3 separate regions of the Homo sapiens genome follow, and all the other regions are linked to region 1. The links come from fine-mapping of genetic effects on gene expression. A gene starts in region 1. Each other region holds a variant in brackets. All regions are shown on one strand. Distances are from middle to middle. Region 1 holds the start of EVI5 (ecotropic viral integration site 5). Region 2 overlaps EVI5 (ecotropic viral integration site 5). Region 3 overlaps EVI5 (ecotropic viral integration site 5).

Region 1 (4,240 bases):
CCAATTACAGTTTCATGCGATGTGAAAGGAGTAAGAGACCACCATAGGGAGGTCAGAAGATGCTTCTCAGAGGTGGATACTAGAGCCGTTGTCAAAGGATGAGGACTGGGAGAACTTTCTGGGCACAGAGCAAAGCATGAGTAAAAGCTCTGTTGAGGCCAGGAAGCCGGTAAATAGGGAATAAAAGAGGCTAGCGTGGCTGGAGCACAGACAGCAGGGTGGAATTGGTCTGAGCAGTGAGAAGAGGTGGAGAGGTGGGCAAGGCACCTGGCCATTCAGGGCTTGGTTAGTTAGGAGGGTTTTTTCTAAGAGAATGGGAAAGTGTTTAAGTGGTTTAGGCTGGGAAGTGACAGGGTCACACTGTTATTTTGAAAAAGTCACTCTGCCTGTTGTGTTGAGATTAGAGAGGGGATAAAGGGAATATGGGTAAACCACAAGAAGACTAGGTCAGTAATCCCTCCACCCCCACTCCCCAGGTGAAGGTAGCCTAGACTAGGGTGGTGATGGAGGAAATAGGAGAGGACAGATTCAAGGACCATTTGTAAGGGAAAAACCAATAGAATTTGCTGACGGATGGAATATAAGAGGGGAGAGGTACATTATCAAGGATGTAGCTTAGTTTTCTTATACAAGGATTGAGTTGCAATAAAATTGTTAATTGAAATTTCTTTAAATAATGGCACAACCTAAAGTTATGCAAACATATGCCTCAGATAAAAGTTCAAGTTTTCAAAGTTTTTAGCTGGGTGGAGGGCATGGCTTTACTTCCTATTTCTTGGTATTTCCTAATCTTGTTGAAAAAAAAGTAAGGTTTTTTTTTTTTTTTTTTTCTGAAATGCTTAGTTCAGTGGAAACCCATCTGCGAATTCTGTCTTATAAATTTAAATTTAAAAATAGGGATACTAATTTCTAGACAAATAATTCCGGAGTTTCTTGTGCTGCTAATTATTATAATTTTTGTCCCTTTTTTTTTTTGAGACAGAGTATCGTTCTGTCGCCCAGGCTGGAGTGCAGTGGCGCGATCTTGGCTCACTGCAACCTCCACCTCCGTGGTTCAAGCAATTCCCCTGCCTCAGCCTCCAGAGTAGCTTGGCTGGGAGTACAGGCGCACGCCACGACGCCGGGCTATTTTTTTTTTTTGTATTTTTAGTAGAGACGGGGTTTCACCATGTTGGCCAGATTGGTCTCCAACTCCTGACCTCAGGCAATCCGCCCGCCTCGGCCTCCCAAAGTGTTGGGATTACAGGTGTGAGCCACCGCGCCCGGCTGTCACTTCTAAACATATAATGAAAGTAATCTGTATTGCCTTTTTACTTTTTCTTGCCTGCTTTTCCTGGACCAGAAATTAATAGGCTGTTTCCGTCCCAAACAAAGTACTTTCCTTCTAAGAATGTCTTCGTTGACGCTGGAGGGCTGCCCGGCTGAATCTTACGTATTCGTGCCCATGTTCTGCCCCCTGCAGTAGTCTGCATAAACCCAATGCGAAGACACGTGTAAGAGTACATTACAATTACAAGTGTCATTTACGCGTTGATTATTGTTTTTGCGAGTGCCCTAAGGCCACCTCTGGGGGAGCTCGGGGCTGCCTTCCGAAGCATGCGCGTCAGCACCGCGTGCCAGGGCCCTGAAAGTCAGGCTCCGCGTCGGTGCGGCAGCGCGAGGCCTGCAGTCCTAAGCTCGGGGTCGCTTCGGGCCCCCGAGGGGGTGTGTCTTCTACCGTTTTAACATGGAAGGGGCGGTTCCAGTGGCCGGGGAAGTCGGCGACTTGCAGGACTGAAGGCTGGTGCTTTGAAAGAGAGGCGGAGGGCGAGAGCGATTTCCCCGCCTCCTCTGCACTCCGTCCAATCCCTTCGCCTTCTCCTTTTCTCGGCCGGCCCGCCCGGCCCCTAACCTGCTCCAACCCATTCTGCGGTAGAGGCTGCCGGGTCTCTTTAAGGCCCTCCCGCGCCTGCGCCTTGGGCTCTCCTGACGCGGCCGGGCCGGACCCCGGAGGAACCAGCTGGCCAGCTGGCAAGGGGCTGGCTGCAGTTCCGACAGCGGCGGTGCCGGGAGGGGTAGGTGAGGGTCGCGAGGCGGCCCTGAGCTTCTGAGTGAGCGTGGTGCTTTTGGGAACTCGGGACGGGCGACCCGTGGAGCCAGGAGCGGGGCCGAGGCGCTGAGACGCGGCGGCGCGGCTGCCGGCTGGATGGGAAGTTAATGTTTACGGCGAAGTCTACTCAACGTTTCCAAGGTGAGGGGCGCTGCGCCAGGCCGGGCGGGCCGGGAGGCCGGGCGGGCGGTGAGTCCGTGTTCCGCTGGCGCACAGCTGGGCCGAGGCGCGGCGGGCGGGGGCCGCCGCAAGTTTTGCTGTGGGAGCGGGGCGGGCGCGCCTGGCCCCGCCAGGGCCTAAGTTCCCTGCACTCGCTTCCTCGCCTGTCGCCGCCGCCGCCGCCCGCAGCCCTCCTTCTCGTGGGCGCTGGGGAAGAAACTCGTCGGCGGGTCTAACTGTGGCGTCCCAGGGCGGTGGAGGGACGGAGCAGCTTCGGGGGCACGTCCTCGTAAATCCCGTGGAGGACACTGACCCTGCACCCCACCCTCGAGGCCAGAAGTCGGTTCCCTTTGGGGACCTGAGGGGCGAGAGCACTCGCCCCCCTGACTTGCAAAGTTGGCGTCTTTACTTGGCCTCCGGGATTCTGCGCATGGCGTGTCTCCAGGCTGCTGATGGGCAAGACAGATGTGCCAGGTCCAGAATGAACTTGAGAAGAGTTTGTAGCCATTCCTGAATCACCTTATGACTAGTGGGGCAAGCCTCAAATTAACCTCAGGATTTCCGGTAGGTTGGATTGTGGTGTTGGTGTTTCCACTCAAAAGAGTTGCTGTGATTTCCCTGTGTCTGTCTGTCTGTCTGTCTTTGGGGCTTCTTAGATCATCTCATTTGGCATCCTTTCACCCAAGAGTTAAACCAAGCCTTTTGGAATGGTTTCCTCGCTTTCCTCCTATCTATTGCTGGTAGAGCTGCTTTCGAAAAGAAGTATTTTCTTGAAGTGGTATCTTTTCTTTGGGTTACAGTGTTGAATAATAAACTCCTTTCTTTGCCGAAAGAATGAATTCCAGTGCTTACTGAAGTTAAAGAAAAGTGATCTGCTGGTAGTTTTTAATCTTTGTTCTGAGCTGATGTAAGTAACTTTTTTTGTTTTAAAATTTTGTTAGTAGAATTTCACCAGTGTACCAGAAGCTCTTTTTCTTTTTCTTTTCTTTTCTTTTTTTTTTTTTTTTTTGACAGGGAGTCTCGCTCTGTCGCCAGACTGGAGTGCAGTGGCGACGTTGGTTCACTGCAACCTCCACCTCCTGCGTTTAAGCAATTCTCCTGCCTCAGCCCCGCGAGTAGCTGGGACTACAGGCGCGCGCCACCACTCCCAGCTAATTTTTGTATTTTTAGTAGAGATGAGGTTTCACCATGTTGGCCACGATGGTCTTGATCTCTTGACCTCGTGTTCCACCCGCCTCAGCCTCCCAAAGTGTTGGGGTTACAGGCGTGAGCCACCGTGCCCGGCCTTCTTTTTCTTTTCTTTTCTTTTCTTTTTTTTTTTTTTTTTTTTTTTTAAGGCTGAGTCTCACTCTGTTGCCTAGGCTGGATATATTCTCCTGCCTCAGCCTCCCGAGTAGCTGGGATTACAGGCGTACATCACCACGCCCGGCTAATTTTTTTTTTTTTGTATTTTTAGTAGAAACGGGGTTTCACCGTGTTGGTCAGGCTGGTCTCGAACTCCTGACCTCAAATGATCTGCCCGCCTCGGCCTTCGAAAGTGCTGGGATTACAGGCGTGAGCCAGCGCACCTGGCCCAGGTGGTCTTTTTTCTGTTCTAAAATGATAACTACGATTTCCGAGAACTTTGTGTCAAATAAATCTTAGAACTAAGTTATTGAAGTATAGAGAAAAAGTTCACAATTCTAAATGTGCAGGTGGTCTGGGTGCGGTGGCTCACGCATGTGATCCTAGCATTTTGGGAGGCAGAGGCAGGTGGATCACTTGAGCCCAGGAGTTTGAGACCAGCCAGGGCAACGTGGCAAAACCCCATTTTCTACTAAAAATACAAAAATTAGCTGGGTGTGGTTGTGTGCGCTGGTAGTCCGAGCTACCCAGGAGGCTGAGGTGGGAGGATCACCAAAGCCGGGGAGGTCGAAGTTGCAGTGAGCCTTGATCATGCCACTGCACTCCAGCCTGAGCGGCAGAGTGAGACCGTCTTTCAAAAAAAACAAA
Region 2 (4,240 bases), 120 kb after region 1:
AGTTCAAGACCAGCCTGGGCAACATAGTGGGCCCCTGTCTCCACAAATTTTTTTTTTCAAATTGCCAGGCATGGTGGTGCATGCCTGTAGTCCTAGCTACTCAGGAGGCGGAGGAAGGAGGATCACTAGAACCAGGGAATTTGAGGCTGCAGTGAGCTGTGATCATGCCACTGCATTCCTTCCTGGGTGACAGAGTGAAATCCTGTCTTAAAAAAAAAAAAAAAAGATGATGGTGGCTTGGACTGAGGTAAGAAGTAATTGGATTCTGAATAGATTTCAAATATAAAGTGGACAGCTAGAATGTAGAGATGTGTGAGGAGGAGGAACCAAGCCTTGTGGTCTGAGCAGGTAGATAAATGGTGTTCCCATTACCTGAGATGGGAAAGACTCCAGAAGGATTTGGTTTAGTGGGGATACCAGGAGCCCAATTTTGGGTATCTTGGGAATGAGATGCCTAGGAGATGTCCAGTTAGCTTCTTAAATATTCAGATCTGAAATTAAAAGAAGCCAAGCTCAAAATATAAATTTGGTAGTTATTGGCGGGGTCATAGTATTGAAAGCCATGAGAATGGGTGAGATTACTTGGGAAAGGATTGTAGATAAAATAGAGAAGAATTCAAGAATTGAGCCTGAGAATAAACCAACATTTAAAGATGAGGAAGACAAGTAGAAAGTAGCAAACTAGGAGAAAACCAGGTAGGTGTAGTTCCCAGAAGCCAAGAGACAGTGAGAAAGAGAGAAGGATTTACCATGTCAAATACTGAAGAGTTTTTGTGAAATGAGGATGGAGAAATGACCATTGCATTTTCCAGCATGATTATAATTTATCCTAGAAACGAGTGGAGCAGAATGGTAGGTACTAAAACCTAACTGGAATAGAAGAAGAAAAATTAGAGATATTTTTCAAGGAATTTACTATAAGGATAAAAGAAATGGGACAGTAGCTAGAGAGGGTAATTATGTTGAATTTTTTGTTTCTGTTTTCTGTTTTTTTTTTAAGATAGGAGAAATAACTGCATGCTTTTATGGTGATAATCAAGTAGGAAAAATTTATCATTAAGAATGGGGGATAATCACTGGAGTCAGGAAGATACGGAATTTAGTGCGAAGTTAGGAGATGTAACTTAGTATGCTAGCATGAGTAGTTAATACACAATAACAAGAAATCAAAATATATGGGCAAAAATGCAGGTAGGATGTAGGATGTGGTTTTGGGAGCTTGTGAAATTCTCTTCTAATTGCCTCAGTTTTTTTCAGTGAAATCATATGCCAGATTATCAACTGAGAGACAATGGATTGGAGGGTTGCTGGTTTGAAGAAAGAGGAATAGGTATGAAATAGTGACCTAGGGGGATAGAAGAAGGACATTATTATTGCTAAGAACCATATTGAATTTAGTGATCAGTAATTTAAATAAACGTCATGGTTTTGTTTTTGTTCAGTCATATTTACTGGCATAGGTACAGACTCAAAATTGTCAGATAGTTGATCCAGAGTAGTGTTTTTTCCAGGCAGTTATACTACGAAGGGAGAGAAGGGCAAGGGGGCTTAAAAGCAAGGGAGCCGTATAATGATTGCAAATTAAACTTTGTCAAGAAGGAATAGAGAACATCAAGGATTGAGGGACAGTGAAAAGTTGTTGGGATCACTAGACTGTCTCAGTGAAAACAATTGTTGGGGTTGGGTTACTTTGTAAACTGAGTAAGCTGGAAAGAATAGGAAATAGTGATTGAAGAGTGGGTTATTTGAAATGAGATTATCCTATTTCAGGATATAAGGTTGTTTTCAGTTTTTCTTATTAAAAATAATGCTAATGGTTAACATCTTTGTATATAACAAGTTTTTTGTCTCCTATTATTATTTCCATAGCCAGTTATAAAAAGTAGAATTAATAAGTTACAAGATATTAGCATTTTAAAGACTTTTGATGTATAATACGTAAATTTCCTAAAGAATGTGTCCAGGGTATGTTTGTCTTAGCAACAAGTTTCCATTTAATGACTACTTTGCCAACACTAAGTATTTCATTCTTGCTCTCACTTTTAGTCTCTTTTTTTTCTAATTTGGTAGGTCAAAAAATTGTCTCTATTTTCTTTTTCAATGTACAAGATAAACATTTGTATGTAGCTATATCTAGGTATCTTCCTCTCTGTGGTTTTCACTTTAAAGTTTAGGAAGCACTCTATTCTAGAAAATGTGAGGAAGATATTGAAGAATTATTGAGAATCAATCAGGTGGTAGATTTTAGTTATTAACCTTTCTATGTATCGTCAATAAACAGTTCAAAAATATACTGGAAGAAGTTCCATTTGAAATAAAAATAAAAGTATATCTAGGAGTAACCTAAATGAAAAATAGAATAGGACCTAACAAACACTGGAAAACTTTACACACAGACATTTTAAAAAGATAACTAAAGATAGACAAAAATAGCTCCATGTTATATAAAGATATGAATTTCCCAGTGATTTTTTTTTTTTTTGAGACAGAGCCTTGCTCCGTTGCCCAGGCC[G/A]GAGTGCAGTGGCATGGTCTTGGCTCACTGCAACCTTCACCTCCTGGATTCAAGTGATTCTCCTGCCTCAGCCTCCTAAGTAGCTGGGATTACAGGCATGCGCCACCATGCCAGGCTGATTTTTGTATTTTTAGTAGAGATGGGGTTTTGCCATGTTGGCCTGGCTGGTCTCGAACTTCTGGCCTCAAGTGATCCACCTGCCTTGGCCTCCCAAAGTTCTGGGATTACAGCTGTAAACCATTGTACCTGGCCCTCAAATTCAGTGAAATTTAATTCCTTGTAAAATTCCAGGGCAATAAAAAAATCTTAAGAATAATTCTAAAAATAGACAAAAGTAGTAAAATAATATTCATGCCTAACTTCAAAACTATTGTGGGCAGTGCTTATCATTAACTGAGTATTTGGCATATATTAGGTGCTATGCTATCTCATTTAATTTTTCAGTTCCCTGTAGGTTTGATTACTCTTAATTTCTGGATGAGGAAATGGAGATTCTAAAACATTGAATGTCATGTGCAAGTGTTAATTGTAGAATGAGAATTTGAACTTAAATCTGCCTAACTTCAAAACCTAGTCTCTTAGCTACTTTAGTATACTAGTATTTGGGGTTTGGGAACAATAAACAAATGTAAGAACAGGGGATATTAGCTCTACTAGGTATTAAAACAGATAGCAAAGCTATAATTACCAAAATACTGTGATATTAGTTTTAAAAAAAGAAGACAGTAACACTTGAAACGTAAAAGTAACCCTGAAATGGTCTGTATTAACTGAAAAAGTCTATTGATCAATTCCTGATGTAAATATTATACAAATGAGGAAGTGGTGATTTATTTTTTAAATGGTGTTAAGCATTTGGTTAGTTGTTTGTGGGAGAAAATCAATTTAGATTTTTATTTATAATGAAATAGATTTCAGAAGCCGTAAAAGGGGTTGGGGAAGGAAATCCAGATGAGTGTTTTCAGTTCTAAATTTTATTTTAGCATGATTTCTGTCATAACTTTATTCACTCAGTTGTCTGGTGGGAACTTAGTTTTCTAAATCTTTTAAGATAAAACATTACCTTTTGTTGATGAAATATGATTGAGAACATTTTGAGAATCCCATTTATTTCTTTGGCTCTCTAGACTTTAGCAGCATTTAATAATTGCTTATTTGTGTAGACTACTATGCTGCACACAGTAGGAGGAGCCAAGACATAAGAACATTTTCTACTTCTCAAGCTGTTATTTTGTCTGAGATTAGTTATTAACTTTCCTGTATATCATAATGTCTATTTCAGATCATCTGAATTTTAGTGAATAGAACAAGAAATCTAATTTGCCAAGTATCTTTGTAATAACTCTAAGATTTGTTTCAATTTGTGATCCACTTTAATAAGATGCAGTAATTCATAGAGTCTCTCATTTCCCTGAACTAATACTTTATATGTTATATAAAGCCATATTTAAGTCTTTACTGGCAAAATAATAGGTTGAATTGATGGAAGAATTTTCTGAGACAGACATTTTTTAGCAGAAATTTATAGGAAGGTGGGGCTGGAAGAAGGCCCTTGATTGAGTTCTGGAACAAATTGGTACAAAAAAGTAAGTTATCACCTTGAGGCCGGGCACAGAGGCTTATGCCTGTAATCCCAGCATTTTGGGAGGCTGAGGCGGGCGGATCATGAGGTCAGGAGATCAAGACCATCCTGGCTAACACGGTGAAACCCCCTCTCTACTAAAAATA
Region 3 (4,240 bases), 63 kb after region 1:
GAACAGGGAGTAGGTCACAAGGATCACATGCTTTAAAGGGCAATAAAGATCACAAGGCAAGGCAAAATTAGAATTACTGATGAGGGTCTATGTCCCACTGTGCACGCATTGTCTTGATAAACATCTTAACAGGAAACAGGGTTCGAGAGCAGACAACCAGTCTGACTAGAATTTAACAGGCTGGAATTTCCCAATCCTAGTAAGTCTGAGGGTACTGCAGGAGACCAGGGCGTATTTCAGTCCTTATCTCAACCGCGTAAGACAGACATTCCCAGAGCAGCCGTTCATAGACCTACCCACAGGAATTGCATTCCTTCCCCAGGGTTATTCCTTGCTGGGAAAATAATTCAGCGATATTTCTGCTACTCACTTTCTGCAAGAAGAAAAATATGGCTCTGTTCTGCTCGACCCCGCAAGCAGTCAGACCTTATGGTTATCTTCCCTTGTTCCCTGAAAATCGCTGTTATTCTGTTCTTTTTCAGGGTGCACTGATTTTCTATTGTTCAAACACACATATTTTACAATCAATTTGTACAATAGTGATCCTGAGGTGACGTATATTCTCAGTTTACGAAGATAACAGGATTAAGAGATTAAAGTAAAGACATGCCTAAGAAATTATAAGAGTATTGATTGGAGAAGTGATAAATGTCCATGAAATCTTCATAATTTATGTTCAGAGATTGCAGTAAAGACAGGTGTAAGAAATTATCAAAGTATTAATTTTGGGAACTGATAAATGTCCATGAAATCTTCACAATTTATCTTCTTCTGCCTTGGCTCCAGCCGGTCCCTCCGTTCAGGGTCCCTGACTTCCCGCAACAGCATGGGAAGAAGTCTGAATAGAATTAGAAAAATTGATTTATATTATTTGACAATTAGATATTGGACTTAATATCATGTATAAATATATTGTGAATGTTACTTCTGCTTAGCTTTAAAAAAATGTACTGCTGAGGTAATTATTGAAGTAATTTTATAATTTTACTGCTGAGATTATTTTTACTTTAAATAGACCTGTCCTCAGACTTGGTCCCTTCCTATTGAGATGGAGACAGACAACAGTAGCTTGAAGGAAATTCACAGGGAACAGGATTAGGAACTATAGATTTTGAGTCTGGCTTAATTGAGCCCCAGGAATAGGACCTAATATCAACTCATGCAAACCTGGTGATAGAAAATACTGCTTTCTTATCATTTCTTAGGAAGCCCTTTTAAAGGTTTTCTTTGGCTCTCAGCACTCAGTGGGTAAGGTAGAAAGCTGGGTGTGCCACATAACTTTTTGTGGGTTTAGTGTGTGTATATGTGTTTTGGTTTTAACTTTTTACCCCTTTGTTTACTACATTTGAAAGATTTTGAGCAAATCCTCTGGTCAGAAGTTTTGGGAAGAGATAGTCTTTTAAAATAATATGTAGATTCTGAAAGTTTCTTGGATAAGATGAAATTAGAAGAGGATCTTGAAAGATCAAAGTGGAGTGTTAGGTTGTGTGAGGGCTGTTATGAGCAAATAGGTTCTCAGAAAAGGAAATGAAAGGGACTATTAAATAGAGCAAAAGGAGATATGTGATAGAAAAATAGTGGGAAAACCAAACACTGCATGTTCTCACTCATAGGTGAGAATTGAACAGTGAGAACACATGGACACAGGAAGGGGAACATCACACACTGGGGACGGTTGTGGGGTGGGGGGAGGGGGGAAGGATAGCATTAGGAGATATACCTAATGCTAAATGACGAGGTAATGGGTGCAGCACACCAAC[A/G]TGGCTCATGTATACATATATAACAAACCTGCACGTTGTGCACATGTACCCTAAAACTTAAAAGTCTAATAATAATAAAATTTAAAAAAAAGATATTGATCAAAGGATATGAAATATCAGTTAGATAAGAGGAATAAGTTCAAGAGATCTATAGTATAATACAGTTACTATTGTTAATAACAGTATATTATATTCCTGAAAATTGCTAAGAGAGTAGCTTTTGTGTTCTTACCACAAAAAAAAGTATGAGAGGTAATGAGTATGTGAATTAGCTTGATTTAGCCATGTGGTACATGATAAATATATACAATTTGTATTTGTCAGCATAAAATATAATTTTAAGTAATTAAAATAGTGGGACATGAAGTTGGGGCAGGACTGACAAAGTAAAGCACTTACAGACAGTGCTAAAGGGTATAAAGGATTTTTAAGTGTTCAGTTGGTTATTATATACAAGGATGAAGTAGTTTCCAGTAAAGATAACTTCTGGTATAGATTTTGTAAGTGACCAAAGTTGAATTTATTTTTACGGTTGTGATCAGTAATTACTGTGCAACTAAAATACACAAAGCGTTATATTAAAATTGTTGTAGGTAAGGTGTGGTTGTAGATGAATTGCTTATTCCCATACAATTCACAATTTACCCCAGAATACCAGATGTGTTTAATATATATGTTGACAACTAAGGAATAATTACTGGAGTTTTAAAAAAAATTATTGTTATACTTTAAGTTCTAGGGTACATGTGCACAACGTACAGGTTTGTTATATAGGTATACATGTGCCATGTTGGTTTGCTGCACCCATTAACTCATCGTTTACATTAGGTATTTCTCCTAATGCTATCCCTCCCCCAGCCCTCCACCCCTTGACAGGCACCAGGGTGTGATGTTTCCCTCCCTGTGTCCAAGTGTTTTCATTGTTCAATTCCCACCTATGAGTGAGAACATACAGTGTTTGGTTTTCAGTCCTTATGATAGTTTGCTCAGAATGATGGTTTCCAGCTTTATCCATGTCCCTACAAAGTACATGAACTCATCCTTTTTTATGGCTGCATAGTATTCCATGGTATATATGTGCCACATTTTCTTAATCCAGTCTATCATTGATGGACATTTGGGTTGGTTCCAAGTTTTTGCTATTGTGAATAGTGCCGCAATAAACATACGTGTGCATGTATCTTTATAGTAGCATGATTTATAATCCTTTGGGTATATACCCAGTAATGGGATCACTGAGTCAAGTGGTATTTCTAGTTCTAGATGCTTGAGGAATTGCCACACTGTCTTCCACAATGGTTGAACTAATTTACACTCCCACCAACAGTGTAAAAGCATTCCTATTTCTCCACATCCTCTCCAGCATCTGTTGTTTCCTGACTTTTTAATGATTGCCATTCTAACTGGCTTGAGATGGTATGGTATCTCATTGTGGTTTTGATTTGCATTTCTCTGATGACCAGTGATGATGAGCATTTTTTCATTTGTATGCTGCATAAATGTCTTCTTTTGAGAAGTGTCTGTTTATAACCTTTGCCCATTTTTTGATGGGGTTGTTTGTTTTTTTCTTGTAAATTTGTTTAAGTTCTTTGTAGATTTTAGATATTAGCCCTTTGTCAGTTGGGTAGATTGCAAAGATTTTTTCCCATTCTGTAGGTTGCCTGTTCACTCTGATGGTAGTTTCTTTTGCTGTGCAGAAGCTCTTTAGTTTAATTAGATCCCATTTGTTAATTTTGGCTTTTGTTGCCATTGCTTTTGGTGTTTTAGTCATGAAGTCCTTGCCCATGCCTGTGTCCTGAATGGTATTGCTTAGGTTTTCTTCTAGGGTTTTTATGGTTCAGGTCTAACATTTAAGTCTTTAATCCATCTTGAATTACTTTTTGTATAAGGTGTAAGGAAGGGATCCAGTTTCAGCTTTCTACATATGGCTAGCCAGTTTTCCCAGCATCATTTATTAAATAGGGAATCCTTTCCCCATTTTTTGTTTTTGTCAGGTTTGTCAAAGAGCAGATGGTTGTAGATGTGCGGTGTTATTTCTGAGGCCTCTGTTCTGTTCTATTGGTCTATATCTCTGTTTTGATACCAGTACCATGCTGTTTTGGTTACTGTAGCCTTGTAGTGTAGTTTGAAGTCAGGTGGCATGATGCTTCCAGCTTTGTTCTTTTTGCTTAGGATTGTTTCGGCAATGTGGGCTCTTTTTTGGTTCCATATGAACTTTAAAGTAGTTTTTTCCAATTCTGTGAAGAAAGTCAATTGTAGCTTCATGGGGATAGCATTGAATCTATAAATTACTTTGGGCAGTATGGCCATTTTCACAGTATTGATTCTTCCTATTCATGAGCATGGAATGTTCTTCCATTTGTTTGTGTCCTCTTTTATTTTGTTGAGCAGTGGTTTGTAGTTCTCCTTGAAGAGGTCCTTCACATCCCTTGTAAATTGGATTCCTAGGTGTTTTATTCTATTTGTAGCAATTGTGAATG

Evidence for each region. PIP is the estimated chance that this variant, and not a neighbour inherited with it, causes the effect. A credible set is the group of variants that fine-mapping cannot tell apart.
Region 2: its variant is the best candidate, but not a certain one, in a credible set for the expression of EVI5 in whole blood (INTERVAL, PIP 0.54).
Region 3: its variant is the best candidate, but not a certain one, in a credible set for the expression of EVI5 in whole blood (INTERVAL, PIP 0.59).

The regions. Positions count from the first base shown.
Region 1 is chr1:92,782,826-92,787,065 of GRCh38, reverse strand. It overlaps EVI5 (ecotropic viral integration site 5), which reads left to right and starts at 1,958. Exons shown (of 20, transcript NM_001350197.2): 1 at 1,958-2,230. RefSeq lists an enhancer at 1,558-1,837 and a silencer at 2,108-2,377.
Region 2 is chr1:92,667,790-92,672,029 of GRCh38, reverse strand. The region is part of intron 10 of EVI5 (ecotropic viral integration site 5); the gene reads left to right. Among named protein-coding and RNA genes, the nearest start is that of EVI5, 120 kb to the left of the region's middle. The variant G/A (reference allele first, on the strand shown) is at 2,513.
Region 3 is chr1:92,719,917-92,724,156 of GRCh38, reverse strand. All of the region lies in intron 2 of EVI5 (ecotropic viral integration site 5), which reads left to right. Among named protein-coding and RNA genes, the nearest start is that of EVI5, 63 kb to the left of the region's middle. RefSeq lists an enhancer at 1-380. The variant A/G (reference allele first, on the strand shown) is at 1,761.